Linked DNA regions of Homo sapiens: region 1 is linked to region 2. The links come from fine-mapping of genetic effects on gene expression. A gene starts in region 2. The other region holds a variant in brackets. All regions are shown on one strand. Distances are between the middles of the regions. Region 1 overlaps DNAJB6 (DnaJ heat shock protein family (Hsp40) member B6). Region 2 holds the start of DNAJB6 (DnaJ heat shock protein family (Hsp40) member B6).

What was found. PIP is the estimated chance that this variant, and not a neighbour inherited with it, causes the effect.
Region 1: its variant is fine-mapped to the expression of DNAJB6 in subcutaneous fat (GTEx, PIP 0.96). The same link has a PIP of 0.9 or more in gastroesophageal junction.

What each region holds. Positions count from the first base shown.
Region 1 is chr7:157,365,897-157,374,353 of GRCh38, forward strand. DNAJB6 (DnaJ heat shock protein family (Hsp40) member B6) reads left to right here. Exons shown (of 10, transcript NM_058246.4): 4 at 606-665; 5 at 1,477-1,587. Among named protein-coding and RNA genes, the nearest start is that of DNAJB6, 33 kb to the left of the region's middle. RefSeq lists a silencer at 7,531-7,729. The variant T/C (reference allele first, on the strand shown) is at 3,478.
Region 2 is chr7:157,333,302-157,341,758 of GRCh38, forward strand. DNAJB6 (DnaJ heat shock protein family (Hsp40) member B6) reads left to right here and starts at 3,703. Exons shown (of 10, transcript NM_058246.4): 1 at 3,703-3,843. RefSeq lists enhancers at 802-881, 3,151-3,653, 3,654-4,157, 4,886-4,935, 7,238-7,758 and silencers at 3,416-3,575, 3,766-3,975, 4,036-4,225.

The DNA of each region.
Region 1 (8,457 bases), 33 kb after region 2:
CAGGTGATCGGCCCTTCTCGGCCTCTGAAAGTGCTGGGATTACAGGTATGAGCTACCTCGCGTGGCTAAGTCCCCCCCGCGCCTACTCTTGTTGCCCAGGCTGGAGTGCAATGGCACGATCTTGGCTCACCACAAACTCCGCCTCCCGGGTTCCAGCTATTCTCTTGCCTCAGCCTCCTGAGTAGCTGGGATTACAAGTGCCTGCCACCACGCCTGGCTAATTATTGTATTTTTACAAGAGATGAGGTTTCACCATATTGGCCAGGCTGGTCTCAAACTCCTGACCTCAGGTGATCTGCCCACCTTGGCCTCCCAAAGTGGTGGGATTACAGGTGTGAGCCACCATGCCTGGCCGTAAATACTTAAATATTTCTAATAACTTGTAAAAATTCAACATACTGAATTTTTTTTGAATTGTTTTTCAGGAGAGAGGTACAGAAAGTTTTCCCTGTTGCTTTGTTTTGTTTTAAAGAAAAGGTGGCCATACTCCTTGAAATTCAGTTGTAAAACATCGAAAACTGATTTACAACTGGGGAAATACCTTATCTATTGAATTAAGGGTTTAAAAGGAACTTGGCCTTACCGACTTTTCTTTCAATTTTTAGCTAAGAAACGGGACATCTATGACAAATATGGCAAAGAAGGATTAAATGGTGGAGGAGGAGGTAAGTACGTGAGTTTTTTCTTTGAAGACAAAAGGTCTTGGCAAGTAAGTTGAGTTTGTAAATCACGAGTCTCTTGGTCAGAGTCGATTTTGTATCAGTAAATAGAGATGCAACGTAGAAAGCGAACTAAATTGGGGAGAGGACAGAGAAATTGATGGCATTTAAAAGTCTTTTACGAGACTAGAAGTATATGTTGATGTATTTTTTATAGATAGAAACAATTTGTAACCATACTGCAATATATTGTGAACATATACCCTTAGATCAGCACTTGACGTTATGTCAAAATATCCTAAGGGTTTAAAGAGCAGATTTTCCTGAAAAGCTAAAATAATGACTTTGAAGGGCGTGGACTTTGTCCCCAAAAGTTCCCACGGTCACTGGGCTGTGACCAGCCTCCCCAGGGGTGTTGGGAAATTATTGCTCCAAACCCACTGGGGCCACGCGGCAGCTTCTGTGGCTCCAGGAGGCCAGTCGTCGAAGTGGATGCAGATACTCTTGGTCTTCATAAACCTTCATAACAAATCATAAAAATGGTGTGTAATGTTACATGTTATATGCCGATCACGGATTTAGAGATGGTGAAAAGTAGTGTCGAAGGGGCCACTGCTGCACTCATATGCCATCAGCGCTGGGCACACTCACTCTCTGTCAGTACAGGGCTCATGTTTTGAATTATAGAGAACTTCAGGTTTATGAAATATTTTTGTTTTTATTAGTTCATGATTTGTATAATGTTTTGTCAACAAAGAATTCTTTGCCTACAAAGCACCAAAATTCATAAACTAAAAGCTGTGTTGTATTTGTGCAGGTGGAAGTCATTTTGACAGTCCATTTGAATTTGGCTTCACATTCCGTAACCCAGATGATGTCTTCAGGGAATTTTTTGGTGGAAGGGACCCATTTTCATTTGACTTCTTTGGTAAGTTAATCACGTGGGTTGACTTGGTGTGTGTCCATGACCCAAATGAGGGCTTACTTAGTATGGCCTTTCTGTTGAATTAACATTGTATTTTAGGCTGGGCGCGGTGGCTCATGCCTGTAATCCCAGCACTTTGGGAGCCTGAGGCGGGCAGATCACCTGAGGTTGGGAGTTCAAGACCAGCCTGACCAACATGGAGAAGCCACGTCTCTATTAAAATACAAAATTAGCCGGGCATGGTGGCGCATGCCTGTAATCCCAGCTACTTGGGAGGCTGAGGCAGGAGAATCACTTGAACCCGGGAGGCAGAGGTTGCGGTGAACTGAGATCATGCCATTGCATTGTTGTCTGGGCAACAAGAGTGAAACTCCTGTCTCAAAAAAAAAAAAGTTAACATTGTATTTTGTCACGAAACTTTGTGTTTAAAGCAGCATTGGACTAGCCTGAACAACATGGTGAAACCCTGTCTCAACAACAACAAAAAAAATACTAAAAATTAGCTGAGTGTGGTGGCGTGTGCCTGTGGTCCCAGCTACTTGGGAGGCTGAGGTGGGAGGATTTCCTTGAGCCTGGGAGGTTGAGATTGGGCCACTGCACTCCAGCTTGGGTGACAGAGCAAGGCCCTGTCTCAAAAAAATAAAACAGCACAGTAGCTGTAAAATCTTTTCTCTTCTTCCTCTTTGAAAATTTAAGTTACAGCTTGAAAAATTAAAATAATAAAGGGTTTAATGTATTTTTTTCTTTGTTATGTATGGCCTTAATTAACTTGCTTTTGCCCTCAGAAGAGACAGTGGTAAGGGCATGGGTGCGAGTGTCTTGGAAACGTTGTTTCCCATTGAACAACCAATTGGTGTGTGAATTTGCCACATCATATTCCTGGTAAAATCATTAAGCACCATAGTACTGTTGGCAAGACCTTTCATCCGTAAACATTGTGTGTGAGGACTGTTGTTGAGAGTTTGCGGAAAGGCACCTCTAGAGCAAGACTGCGGAGGCCTTTGCTGAGGAGAGAATGGTTTTGTTAAGGGAGACAGTGCTGTTATAGCTGCTGTTTGATTGTAGGAAAATGGATTTCTCATCAGTGGCATCTCAGTCCTGATGCCTGGTCCTAGGCGTTGGTGTATGTCTTGGGCACAGTTTGGGTCAGGCACTTTTGTTAGCTGTCTCCTGTTAGAGTCTTCTCAACCACTGGGACTTCCTGAGTGGTGCACTGGGTGACCTGAGAGGTCAGGATTAAACATGTACTCCTGTAGTTGTTTTTGTCTTTTGACTTATTGAAAGGGAAACACATTGTATGTTTACCTCCTTCATTGCCTGGAGCTTGGGTGAAGAAACTGAACACCACCTGCAACTCGAGGAGGGAAAGAGAAGAGTAGTTGTGTCTACAGATAATACAGGGGAGAAACGTGGAGCTCCTGCCTGCCGCAGGCACGAAGAAGCATAATCACTCTCATATCTGGTAGGTCTTGGGCCTTTTGCATGGTGCAGTTCTTCAGTGTGTCTCAAATGGGGATTCAAAGAGGTTGTTCTTACACCTTATTATGGGCTGGCTGGCTTGAAGAGAGCCCCTTTCTGAGGGAGGAAGGACAGTCAGTGGCCTCAAGCATTTTCAGGGAAACTGAAGCTGAGCAGGCGATTTCCGATTAGGGGACCGGGAGACTGGCGTGCTCATCGTTTAAGTGCATTTGCTGTAATCACTGCTGCCATCAGCAGAAACAGAGCTCAAGAAAGAACCATGTTTACATCCGTCCTTCATCAACCCTCACAGGCAAGAAATATTTCTCTAAGAAAAATAATTTACGGATTGATCTCTGTCTTAAAAATGACCTTTGCATCTTGCTGTAGCCTTCAGCAAACTGCATTTGTTGCTTTGCAGGACAGGGCAGTGTT[T/C]GGGTTGAAGTCCTGTGTTCTGATCGGTGATTCTCATGGTGACCAAGCGAGGAAGAAGGCCCGCTCTTCCAACACCATGGCTTCTCTTCTGGGGCACACGAGGTGAAACGGGCTGTCCTCGTGATGTCTGAGACCGGGCGTCTTCAACAGGCCCTGCTTAACATTATGATTAAACAGGGCTTTCTTACCATTATTATTAAACAGGCCGTTTCTCAACATTATTATTAAATAGGCCCCTTCTTAACATTGTTATTAAAGAGGCCCTTTCTTCACATTATTATTAAACAGGCCCCTTCTTAACATTATTATTAAACAGGCCTTTCATAACGTTATTATTAAACGGGCCCCTTCTTCACATTATTATTAAACAGGCCCCTTCTTAACATTATTATTAAACAGGCCTTTCATAACATTATTATTAAACGAGCCCCTTCTTAACATCATTATTAAACAGGCCTTTCATAACGTTATTATTAAACGGGCCCCTTCTTCACATTATTATTAAACAGGCCCCTTCTCAACATTATTATTAAACAGGCCCCTTCTTAACATTATTATTAAACGGGACCCTTCTTAAGATTATTAAACGGGCCCTTTCTTAACATTATTATTAAACAGGCCCCTTCTTAACATTATTATTAAAGAGGCCCTTTCTTAACATTATTATTAAACAGGTCTTTCATAACGTTATTATTAAACGGGCCCCTTCTTAACATTATTATTAAACAGGCCCCTTCTTAACATTATTATTAAATGGGACCCTTCTTAAGATTATTAAACGGGCCCCTTCTTAACATTATTATTAAACAGGCCCCTTCTTAACATTATTATTAAAGAGGCCCTTTCTTCACATTATTATTAAACAGGCCCTTTCTTAACATTATTATTAAACCGGCCTTTCATTAACGTTATTATTAAATGGGCCCCTTCTTAACATTATTATTAAACGGGCCCCTTCTTAACATTATTATTAAACAGGCCGTTTCTCAACATGATTATTAAACAGGACCTTCTTAACATTATTATTAAATGGGCCCTTTCTTAACATTATGATTAAACAGGTCCTTTCTTAACATTATGATTATTATTTTAATTCAAAGGGGAAGGGTCCCTTAGTGACTGAATTGTAGCTAATTTTTGTTTTCCTTGGGGAAAATAATCTGATACACCAAGCCATAGAGCAATTACTTGTAAAGAAGGTATAGAGATCTAATTAGATGTGAGTGAATAAGTGAGTTTTTACCCCTAGTCCAAGGAGAGAGGTGCTAGTCTTACTGAAGCGCTTTACTGTTAAATGCTCCATTTTACATGCAGACCTATTTTAAGACCAGGTACCCTGTGTTTCCCATGATTAGTGTGGCAGTGATACTTGTTCATTCCGTTCTTATAGGTGTTCTAGATGACTTCCATTTTCAGGCTCTCAGGATTTACACACTGGGGAAGCTGCTGCTCCATGGCTGCTATATGTATGTAGTCACTGAGCAGCCTGCTGACGGTATGTTTAATGTAGATGGGTGTGGATGCAGAGCCAGAGGGATTTCCGCTTATTCATGATGTAGTTCAGGGGTCAACACCCTGGTCTGTGGCCTGTTACGAACTGGCCTGTTGGGAACAGGAGGTGAGCGGCGCGCAGGCAGGCAAGCATTACTGCCTGAGCCCCACCTCCTATCAGCTCAGTGGCAGCATTGGAGTCTCATAAGGGCACAAACCCTATTGTGAACTGCACACGCGAGGGACCTAGGTTGCGCATTCCTCATCAGAATCCAGTATCTGAAACCATCCCCCTACCCCAACCCATCACCCACTGTGTGGAAGAATTGTCTTCCATGAAACCAGTCCCTGGTGGCAAAAAGGTTGGGGACCGCTGTTGACAAATCATATTTACTAGACCTGGTGTACTTTCCACGTGACGAAAAAGTAGTTTAAAATGTGCTGTAAGATATTTCCGAGCTGCACTTTACATTTATCAGAATGCAGAACCCCTGCTGTACTTCAGACCTCCCTCATGATAGGTGGGGAAGGGTGAAGGGGTGCCGGATGTTGGACACATGGTATGCAGGTCTGTGCCTGAGCACCAGGCAGTGCTCACTGTCACACTGTGGCCAAGGAGACTTGGGCCTGGGGCCTGCGGTGTGGAACCCGTCCTTTACAGAAGAAGCCCTCCCAGGAGAGGTCGCGGAGGCGGATTCTAACACCAGCCTGGAAGGAATGCTGCCTCTGAATTGGAGGGGTACAATCAAAACTGCTGAGGCTAGGTGACTGTCGAAATTTCCAGAATGTGGAGCACATGCAAATGAGCTCTTGTCGAAATGTTAATTGGAAAATATTAATAGGCAGTGGACTTATTTGAATTAGGATGCTCTCTTTATTTTATTATTAGAGGACCCTATTGCTCAGTGAAATGATGTTCTGAGATAGGAAAGAAAGGGTACCTGATAATAGTGCCTTTTGATCCCATTAGTCACAGCAGGCATTACATCTGGGAAAAGCCTGTGGGTTTAACTTCACATTTTATTTATATTCTTGGAAAACCAAAGCGAACCTTTAAGGTTTCCAGAGAGGCCTTTTATTTTAGCAGTGCAGCAAGTTTTTCCTTTGTAAAGCATCACTGTGGTACGAATGATGCTCTGTAGCAATAGAGGAGGAGTCCTGTGGTATGTAGAACCAAGGAAAGCAGACTTCTTGCAGGAAAAATGAGTGCATTGAGGATAGTAACCTGACTTTCTGACCTGTGATTAAATTATGATAGTAGTCAGTCATTTTACTCTCCCAGGGTTTGAGGAAGTGGCCGGTGAGGACTTGGAGCCTAGTGAGGAGTTAGTAGAGCTGCCCAGGGTGGAGGAGGCCACAGAGGACAGCCCTGGTGAAGAGAACAGTGAGGCCTTGGATGTGTTGATATCCAGCAAGGACCTGGCACTGTCTAGTGAGGACGAGGCCTGCACAGGATGTAACTGGGGCCTGGGCGAGCCCTTCAGCGAGGAGCTGGGGCTCATATCCAGCGAGGACGGGGCCAGCCCTGGGGACGTAGAGGAGCTCGGCGAGGAGTGCGAGGAGCCGCTGAGTGAGGAGGAGCACAGCGGGCCAGAGCTGGGGCGCTGCCGGCACCACCATAAAGTGTCAAGGAGCTGCCCGAGTGGGACTGACTTAAAACAGTGTATCTAGAATAAAATGGTTTCCTCTAGTGCCTTGATACTGTCCTTGGTCAGACGACCTCAGCTGCCTTGGAGATAGAACTGAAGAAGCAAGAGAGGGAGGTGGCAGCCCTGAAGCACAGGCCGGGCGTCTCGTAGGCTCTTTCCCTAGAAGCCAGAGCACAGACCCTGAAGACAGCCTTGAGTTTGATCCGTACCACAAACCGGGGGCTTAAACTACCAAAATGTACCATCTCCCAGTCCTGGAGGCTGGCCATGTGAGACCCAGGTATTGCAGGGCTGGTTGCTTCTGAGGCTGAGATGTGTCCCGTCTTGCTCCAGGCCCTTCCCCAGCTGTTCTTCTCCCTACATTTGCAGACGGATGGCCCATCCGATGTTGACATCATCTCCTTTGTGTCTGTCTCTGTGTCCATTGGATTTAATGTTTTAGAGACAGATTTCACTGTGTTGCTTAGGCTGGCCTCCAACCGCTAGGCTCAAGCAGTCTTCCTTCCTCAGCCTCCCAAGTAACTGATCACAGGCATGAGCCACTGTGCCCAGCCACAAGTTCCCCCTTTTTATAAGGACATCATTTATATTGGCTTAGTGCCCACTGTAATGATTTCATCTTAACTTGATAATCTATAAAGAGCCTGTTCCCAGTAAGGTCACATTCACAGGTACTGGGGATTAGGACTCTAATTTAATCTTTTTTGGGGACCATGATTCAACCACTTTAACATCATATTTCTAACGGGTAGATTTTTGTGCTAGTCTTTGAAATTCACAGCCAAGCAGCAAATTTTGAAAGGTGAAAGGAGGAGGAACCTTTAAAGTTAGACATGTGCCCTCACCCCTCGCTCTGAGACAGAGTTTTGCTCTGTCACCCAGGCTGGAGTGCAGTGGCACAGTCTCAGCTTACTGCAACTTCCGCCTCCCAGGTTCAAGTGATTCTCTTGCCTCAGCCTCCCAAGTAGCTGGGATTTCAGGTACCCACCACCACACCTGGCTAATGTTTGTGTTTTTAGTAGAGACGGAGTTTCACCATGTTGGCCAGGCTAGTCTCGAACTTCTGACCTCAGGTCATCTGCCTGCCTTGGCCTCCCGAAGTGCTGGGATTACATGCGTGAGCCACCATGCCTGGCCAAAGTTAGATGTGTTAATGAGAGCTAGAAGTTAGGGGTCAAGTACAGGCATGGGAGTGGCACAGCAGATTGGATCGGTGTGTGCTGGTGACCTGGACCCACTATCATTACACGGCGCTACAGCAGTTTGTTTGTAATGAGTGTTCTTTGATTACTTTGGACAGAGTTCATACACAGGCACACCTACACACAGGTCACTTAGAAGAAGTTAAGGAGTCTTTTTAAATACACATAAAAACATCACATACTAAGCCAGGCATGGTGGTGTACCCCTGTAATGCCAGCTACTGGGGAGGCTGAGGTAGGAGATTCCTTGAGCCCAGGAGTTCGAGTCCAGCTTGGGAAAAATAATGAGATGCCATCTCTAAAAATTTAAGAAAAAAAGGTTAAAAAATGAAACCGTGATGTACGAGACTGGTTTCCAGCTAAAGTTGTTGGAACCATCCTTGTGTGTAATTTCACATGGTCGTGAAGCAGTGGGCAGTCCCGCCCGGCATCCCCACGCGCTCTTCCTCTCATCTGGTGAGAGTTTCTTGGAGAACATGCCAAACTCATGTATGGTTGTGTGCGTATTTGAGAACTCCTCGTGTTGAGATGGAGCTGTTTTTTGGAAGTATCTCATTTTTTTTGAGATGGAGTCTCACTCTGTCGCCCAGCTGGAGTGCAGTGGCGTGATCTCGGCTCACTGCAACCTGTACCTCCCG
Region 2 (8,457 bases):
CTGGGAATATAGGCATGTGCCACGACACCGGGCTAATTTTTTGTACTTTTAGTAGACATGGGGTTTCGCCATGTTGGCCAGGCTGGTCTCGAACTCCTGACCTTGTAATCTGCCCACCTCAGCCTCCCAAAGAGCTGGGATTATAGGCGTGAGCCACTGTGCCTGGTCATAATTTTCTATGTATTTATTTTTGAGACAGGGTCTGTGTTGCCTAGACTGGAGTACAGTGGTGCTCTACTGAAGCCTGGACCTCCCTGGGCTGAGGTGATTCTCCCACCTCAGCCGCCTGAGTGGTTGGGACTATAGGTGTGTGCCACCGCACTTGGCTAATTTTGCTATATTTTGTACAGATGGGGTTTCACCAAGTTGCCCAGGCTGCTGTCGAACTCTTGAGCTCAAGCAATCTTCTCGCCTCGGCCTCCCAAAGTGCCAGAAAAAAATAATTTATTTTTGGTAGAAATGGGGTCTTGCGGTGTTACCTAGGCTGGTCTGGAATTCCTAGGTTCAAGCAATCCTCCTGCCTCAGCTTCCCAAAGTGCTGGGATTACAGGTGTGCACCACTGTGACCAGCCTGATACGCGTTTTAATGTGTGTGTGTGTGTGTATATATATATACACACACACACATACACACACATATATTTTCTTTTTCGAAGGGGGAAAAGCTATTTGTGGCTAGCCTACCACTTACAATGTAAAATTCATGTCTGTGCTGCTTACATTTCAAGATGAGCTCACAATCACTGTAGGGACGTATTGACATGTAAAATGTCCCATGATAGTACTGTCTGTCCACACTGAGATGGAACTAAACCTCCATCAATCTGCAAGCAGATAGGTTACATGTGACAGTGCCAAGCTGTGCACATATCTGAAATTCCAGTCTTTGCTGAGATTATTTTAGGTTTTATTATGAGATGCCCATACTAACACAAACTATTATTTCTTCCTTTTGAACAGTCATTTATATAACCAGTAAAAAAAGAGAATAGAGGCTGGGCTTGGTGGCTCATGCCTGTAATCCCAGCACTTTGGGAGGCTGAGGTGGGTGGATCACCTAAGGTCAGGAGTTTGAGACCAGCCTGGCCAACATTGTGAAACCGCATCTCAACTAAAAATACAAAAAATTAGGCATGCATGGTTGCTCATGCCTGTAATTCCAGCTACTCAGGAAGCTGAGACAAGAGAATCACTTAAACCTGGGAGGTGGAGGTTGCAGTGACCCTAGATTGTGCCACTGCACTCCAGCCTGGAGGACAGACAGAGAGACTCAGTCTCAAATAAGAATAGAGAATCCAGTCAGATTTTCCTTTGCTAACTGATCATTTGCTAGAAATGACATGCAGTAATACAATTAAAGTTTAAGAAACACAAAAAATGAGCCCAGCACAGCGGCTCATGCTGGTAATCCCAGCACTTTGGGAGGCTGAGGCAGGAGGACTGCTTGAGCCCAGGAGGTTAAGGCTGCAGTGAGCCATGATTGAACCACTGCACTCCAGCCTGGGTGACAGAGCAAGACCCTGTCTCAAAAAAAAAAAAAAAAAAAAAAAAAAAAGGGCAGTATTTCATTTTGAAGTATAACAATTACAGCCATTAACCAAGTGTTCCAGTTGTCTAAAATGAGGCAGGTGTAGACGGAAAATTTTCCCTGTACTCTCTGAAGGTTTCACAACTGAGTCTCTGAACTAAGCTGACAATAGACAGATTCGTAAGAGAAAAAGTATACAAATCTATAACATGTACTAGGGCATCCCAGAATCCAGTGAGATCTGGAAGCTTATACAGCCCCTTCATAGAAGAGAGGGGAGGCAGATGCAGGCAGCTCAGGGGAGAGAAAATGATTTTTTGCCTTCAGAATAGGTGGTGGCCTGTGGCAAAATCTGTCTGGGTGTGCAGCTGACGTCCCTTGAAGCTCTTCTCCCGTGATCCTGGCTCATTCTTCCCTGGATGAGACTTCCAGGGAGGGGGTCAAGACAATTGAGTCCCTTTGGGATGATCTGTCTTTATGTAAATAATGGGGGATTCACAGAATGCCCCTCCCTGCATTGGCAGGTCCCCATGTGCCCTCAGTTTGAGGGCATACTAATGTGGTAATCAGTGAACTAGTTAGTAATCAGTATCCTAATATGGCATAATTCAGGGTGGCATTTCTCCAACTCTTTCATTACTAACGAGCTATTTTAAACCAAAAGTGATTCAAGTGTTAAAGTGCCTTTTACTTGAATATCTCCCAGGCTTAAACGATCACGAATTCATAAGCGTTGTTAGTTCAGAAGGTGGCTGAGCAGGCCCCCGGAATTCAGTGTCAGCATGCCACAGGATCTGAAGTTCAGGAAAGGTGTAACAAAAAGGGATTTTTCTTTTTTCTTGAGACAGAGTTTCGCTCTTGTTGCCCAGGCTGGAGTGCAATGGTGTGATCTCCGCTCACTGCAACCTCCTCCTCCTGGGTTCAAGCGATTATTCTGCCTCAGCCTCTGCAGTAGATGGGATTACAGGCATGCACCACCACACCTGGCTAATTTTTTTTGCATTTTTAGTAGAGACGGGGTTTCTCCATGTGTCAGGCTGGTCTCGAACTCCCAACCTCAGGTGATCCGCCCGCCTTGGCCTCCCAAAGTGTTGGGATTACAGGCGTGAGCCACCGCACCCAGTTGAGATTTTTATTTCTTAAAGGAAAGGATAAGGTGGGCCAGGACTAAGACAACACAGTAGCAAACATCTGGCTGAATGCTGGAGAGGAAGACAGTGGGAGATCCAGGCCAGGCTCCATGGACGAACTGCTTGTTGGCTCCTTAGGCTTTGGGTCTGCGGGACCCTTTCGCTACTGGGAATGGGAGCCTGTCTGACTGCACTGGGTCTGAGACTCCCTGCTCCTGCTGGTCACCATCTACACGCATGTGGTGTTGGTCTCCAGGGTTAGAACCAGAACCCCTGAGGACGCGGGAAAGGCTAGGAAGCCTGGGGATGACCTAAAGTCCAGCTATCAAAATGCGCCGCGTTTTCAGAAAAACTACTGCCACGATTTAACCTAAAAAGCTTCATCTGTATTTTCTGCCACAGTTTGCTTCCGTTTCCTTCAGTCACTATTCCCTGGCGAAGTCTCCACGCGCTCCCGTTCGCCGGGGAACTTAGGGTATCCGGGCTTCCCTAAATTGACAAGCGGGGGCCGGCGCCTTCGCCCGCCTTCGCTGGCCGCCGCTTGGTTTGTTCTTCTTCTCCTTCGGGGACTTCTCCGCCCGCGCCCGCGCCCGCGCCCCAGCTTTCGTCCCGCTGTGCGGAGATGCCACCCAGCTCCACCGCAGGACCGCGGAGCGAGAGGCGGCAGACGCGCTCCGGGGGCCGCCGGTCAAGAGGAAGATGAAGGGCGCGACGACTTCGCGGTTTCCAGAATGGGCTCCTTCTGGCCCAACAATAAGTGCCATTTGGAATCTTCTCGGCCTTCTCTGTGCCTTCCGCGCGTCTGGGCTCCCCGGTACCGTAGACCCGGCCCCGAGCTCCGCCCCCTCGCCCTGGGCTTCCCCGCCCCCTCGCCCCCAGTCTCCTGGGCTCTTCGGGGCGGCGGAAGAGCCGAGAACCTTCGCGAAGGTGGGGCGGGCGCCCCCGAGGTTGGGCCCGCGGTATGGGCAGTGGAAACTGCGCATGCGCGGCGTCAGGGTCGGGCGGAAGTTGACGCCGCCGTGCCGCCGCCGCGTGACGCATTTCCTGTTTGTTGTTGGAGAAAGGAGAGAAAGGAAAGCGCGAGGAGCCGCCGCCACCACCAGCGCAGCAGTCCTGGAGCTGTGAGGAGATTCGGGCCGTCACCCTGCCTCCCCTGCGTCCCGCCACCGGCCGCTTCTGTCCTCGGTGAGGGTCTGTTCCGAGGGTCGGGGGAGGTCGCCTAGGGCCCCGCGCGCGCCCGGCAGACGGCGGACCTCACCCGGCGCCTGGCAACAGCGCGGGGGGTGACCGGGGTCGCCGGCCGGGGAAAGGACTGGACGGGGCGGGGGCCGTGGCCGGGGTTGCGGGGCGAAGGGTGGGCGGGGTCCTCTGGGTCAGGTCTGGGGCCGGGGCCGGGGCTGGGGTCTGGGGCCGCCCGGCCGCGTCCTCCCCGCCCGGCGTCCTTGCCGGAACGCGGCCCAGCCTCCGCGGCGGCGGTTGGGGGTGGGGCCCGGCCTGGGAGCGGCCGGCTGGGGCTCGGCTGGGGCTCGGCGGGGCCGGCAGCGTGGGAGGCGTGGAGCGCCTTCTTTTTCTAAGGCTCCCGCACTCGCGTCTGAAACCAGAAACGGGAGTGGCTTGCGGAGCAGGAATGCCGCAGCCGTGCCGCCAAGTTCGGAGGGAGAAGAAGCAGGTGGGGGACCGCAAAGCCCTGTTTCTAGAACTCCGGACGGATTGTTCAGAAGTTTGTGGAAGAGCAGGCTGCCTTTCTCACTCAGAATGTTTGTCTGCTTTGCTTTGCGTTAAAGAATCTGCACCGTAGTTGATGCAACTGAAGTTTATATAAGAAGTTTACATTAACTCTTACCTAAGGAAGGTCAGTGACACACGCAGTGTAAACTGCAAATCATATATTGGCTCGAGAAAGGTTTTGGCACTAGCGAATTTTTTAAAGGATGGGTTTGCTAGTCAGACGTAAACTTCTGTGCTAACTTCTCACGTAAACGGGGCAGGAAACAGCGCAAGTAGAACGATCGTGCCACCACCGAAGGGGTGCCGCCTGCGAGCTCGGAGGCTTCAGCCTGTTTGGGAAGAGTAGGCTGAGCGGCGCTCTTTGTAGTTTTCAACGTTTTTATTGAGTTGCGAATTTTAGTAAGGATTTGTCGCTACAATTTAAGCCAAATTATTGATTTAGTAGAAAAGTTAGAGTGAAGACCGAAGAAAGGAAACAGACGTTAACCATTAAAGCTTGATTGCTGCTGCTTCGTGTTTAACCGCACTTTTCCAAATAGTGTTGCGTATCAGAACGATTCATGATTTCTGAAAGGAATTATATGCAGCCGCCTTACTCCTCCGCCAGTCCACCCGTCCCGCGTTCTCTCTGGGTTTACTCCAGACTTCCTTTTTTTTTTTTTCCTGAGACGGAGTCTGTTCTGTTGCCCAGGCCAGAGTGCAGTGGCGCGATCTCCACTCACTGCAACTTCCAGCTCCCAGGTTCAAGCGAGTCTCCTGCCTCAGCCTCCTGAGTAGCTGGGGTTACGGGTGCTCGCCACCATGTCCGACTAATTTTTGTATTTTTAGTAGAGACGGGGGTTTCACCGTGTTGGTCAGGCTGGTCTCGAACTTATGACCTAAAGTGATCGCCTGCCTCGGCCTCCCAAAGTGTTGGGATTAGAGGCGCGAGCCACCGCGCCTCGCCGACTCCAGACTTGTTTCCACTCCTGAGGGCCTTAAGCTCCCTTGGAGTTTGTGCTTTCACATTTCTTTCTGCCTTCCGTGATAAAGGGATGAATAGTTTTTATGCACGCTTCAGCGAGCTGCGGGTTTTTGTGGATTACGCAGGCTGTGAAATTTGGGAAGTAAGTTGCCTTAAGTTGGTAGATGTGGAGATTTGACAGGAAGTGGGAGAACAAAGGGGTTGGGAAGCTTTTGGAAAGTGTCCAGGCTTCATCTGTGCTGTGGAAGGTGAGAAAGTTGGGAATTCCAGAGGGCAGAGCTCTTAAAGAATTTGAGATGAGTTCAGCACTCTCTTCAAAACAGTGTTTTAAAATTTATTTTCTTCTGGATATGAAAGTGTTAGGTTTGGGAAGTAATTCTGGCTGTAGGACAGTTTTTCCGGAACACTAGGTGGGGAGTGTTGAATGTTGTGAAGACTAAAATATGCATATGGTATTACAGTGTGATACCTGTTACTGAGTGGCGTACATTAGCTTTCATTTTTAAGCAAGCCCGTAATTCCCTTCTATTAACTCTGTTTTGGACAGTGGTACCCGTCACCCTCATCAGTCTTCAACCTAGATAACCTAAATCCAGGTCTGAGGTGGGGGTGGAATGGTCTGTTTGCACCTTTTTTTTTTTTTTTTTTTTTTTTTTTTTTGAGACGGAGTCTTGCTCTGTCGCCCAGGCCGTAATTAATGCGGTGGCGCGATCTCGGCTCACTGCAAGCTCCACCTCCCGGGGTCACACCATTCTCCTGCCTCAGCCTCCCGAGTAGCTGGGACTTCAAGCTTCCGCCACCACAGCCGGCTAATTTTTTTGTATTTTTTTAGTAGAGACGGGGTTTCACCGTGTTAGCCAGGATGGTCTTGATCTCCTGACCTCGTGATCCGCCTCCTCGGCCTCCCAAAGTGCTGGGATTACAGGCATGAGCCACCGCGCCCGGCCTTTTGTGTGTGTGTGTGTGTGTGTGTGTGTGTGTGTGTGTGTGTGTGTGAGATGGAGTTTAGCTCTTGCCCCTGCTGGAGTATAATGGCACCATCTTGGCTCACTGCAACTTCGCCTCCCAGGTTCAAGCGATTCTCCTGCCTCAGCCTCCCGAGTAGCTGGGATTACAGGCATGCGCCACCACGCCCAGCTAATTTTTTCTATTTTTATTAGAGACGAGGTTTCACTATGTTGTTCAGGCTGGTCTCGAACTCCTGACCTCAGGTGATCCACCCGCCTCGGCTTCGCAAAGTGCTGGATTACAGGTGTGAGCCCGCGCGTCCGGCTGTCACTTTAAAGAGTATTATAAGAGGGCACTTCATAACTTGGGCAGGTATTTTTAGTCATCCTGAACGTGTCGCTGTGGACTGGGTGTCACCGCGGGACCGCACAGACACCTTACTGTCGTCTGCTGTAAAGGTCAGCTTCTATATTGGTTAATGCTTACAGATATCTGTTGAGGAATAAGAGAATGTAATTAGCCTTTGTATTTGTGAGTTGACGTTTTGACGGGATTTTTACTTCTTAGTATTTATTTGCATCGAGGTTACACACTGGATTAACAGCGTTTTTTGGAAACCTTTTTAAAACTTTTTCATTTCCTCAGAAATGATTCTGTTCAAAATGTGGTTTGGTTAAATTTGTGCAGGACCCCACCTGGTGGTGAGAGGCGGGTAACTGCAGGCTCATTAGCGAGTAAGAGTAGGATCAGTGGCAGGATTTAGCAAATGGTGTAGTTCAAGGATGAATAGAATTTGAGAATATCAAACTCAAAAAAATGAGGTTAATGAGAAGAAGAGCAAAGTTGGTGAAAACAAGAATATGTTAGAAACGATGATGTAGGAATGGAAAAACGACAACGCCTACCTGCAGAAAAGTCAACTAGTAAAAATGTGATTTTTTTTTTTGTATTGATATTAATGAGGTGTTTTGTCAAACAAAACCCTTTATGTTTTTGTATGGACATAAATCACTGTTGACCTGTTTCATGTTCCTGGAGATATCCTACTTGAGAAGGAATATTGATTGATGATTAGTTGACTGACTGATTTACTTGAGATGGAGTCCTTGCTCTGTGTCCCAGGCTGGAGTGCAGTGGCGCGGTCTTGGCTCACTGCACTCCTGGGTTCAAGCCATTCTCCTGCTTCAGCCTGCCAGGTAGCTGGGATGACAGGCGCGTGTCACCACGCCTGGCTAATTTTTGTATTTTTAGTAGAGACGGTTTCACCATGTTGGTCAGGCTGGTCTCGAACACCTGACCTCAGGTGATCCCCTGCCTCCGCCTCCCAAAGTGCTGGGATTACAGGCGTGACCCACCGCACCTGGCTGTGTGTGTGTGTGTGTGTGTGTGTGTGTGTGTGCGCGCGCGCAGGTGGAATCACCCTGTGTGCCCAGGCTGGTCTCGAACTCCTGGCCTCAAGTGAGTCTTTCATCCCGGCCTGTCAAAGTGCTAGAATTACAAGTGTGAGCCAGGTGCCTGGCCAGATTTTAGATTTTTTTGTTGTTGTTGAGATGGAATCTCATATTGCCCAGGCTGGATGCAGTGGCGCCATCTCGGCTCACTGCAACCTCTGCCGCACGGGTTCAAGCGATTCTCCTGCCTCAGCCTCCCGAGTAGCTGTGATTACAGGCACCTGCCACTGCTCCCGACTGATTTTTGTATTTTTAGTAGAGACGGGGGTTTCACCATCTTGGCCAGGCTGGTCTTGAACTCTTGACCTCGTGATCCACCCGCCTCGGCCTCCCAAAGTGGTGGGATCACAGGTGTGAGCCACTGCGCCAGGCCATATTTTAGAATTCTTAAGCTGTGTTGCAAAATTACGTGTCTTTGGAAGGGTGATTTAGTTTACACTACATATGATTTTTCCCCCTTTGATATTTTTCTACTTACCTTTTGCCACCAAAGGCTTAAATTAAAAGTGTGTTTTATATTTGTGTTGTGCATATATACGTGTGTGCTCTAGTTGGTATGCTTATGAACTGTGTACTAATACTTATTCCTCTCTGCCACCTTGAGATGGCATGTACCACTTGGGTGGGCTTTGAATCTGAAGTTATTTGTGTTTATAGGAATGTCCAGGACACAGAGTGCTTAGAAAGTATTGATTGAATTAGATTCTT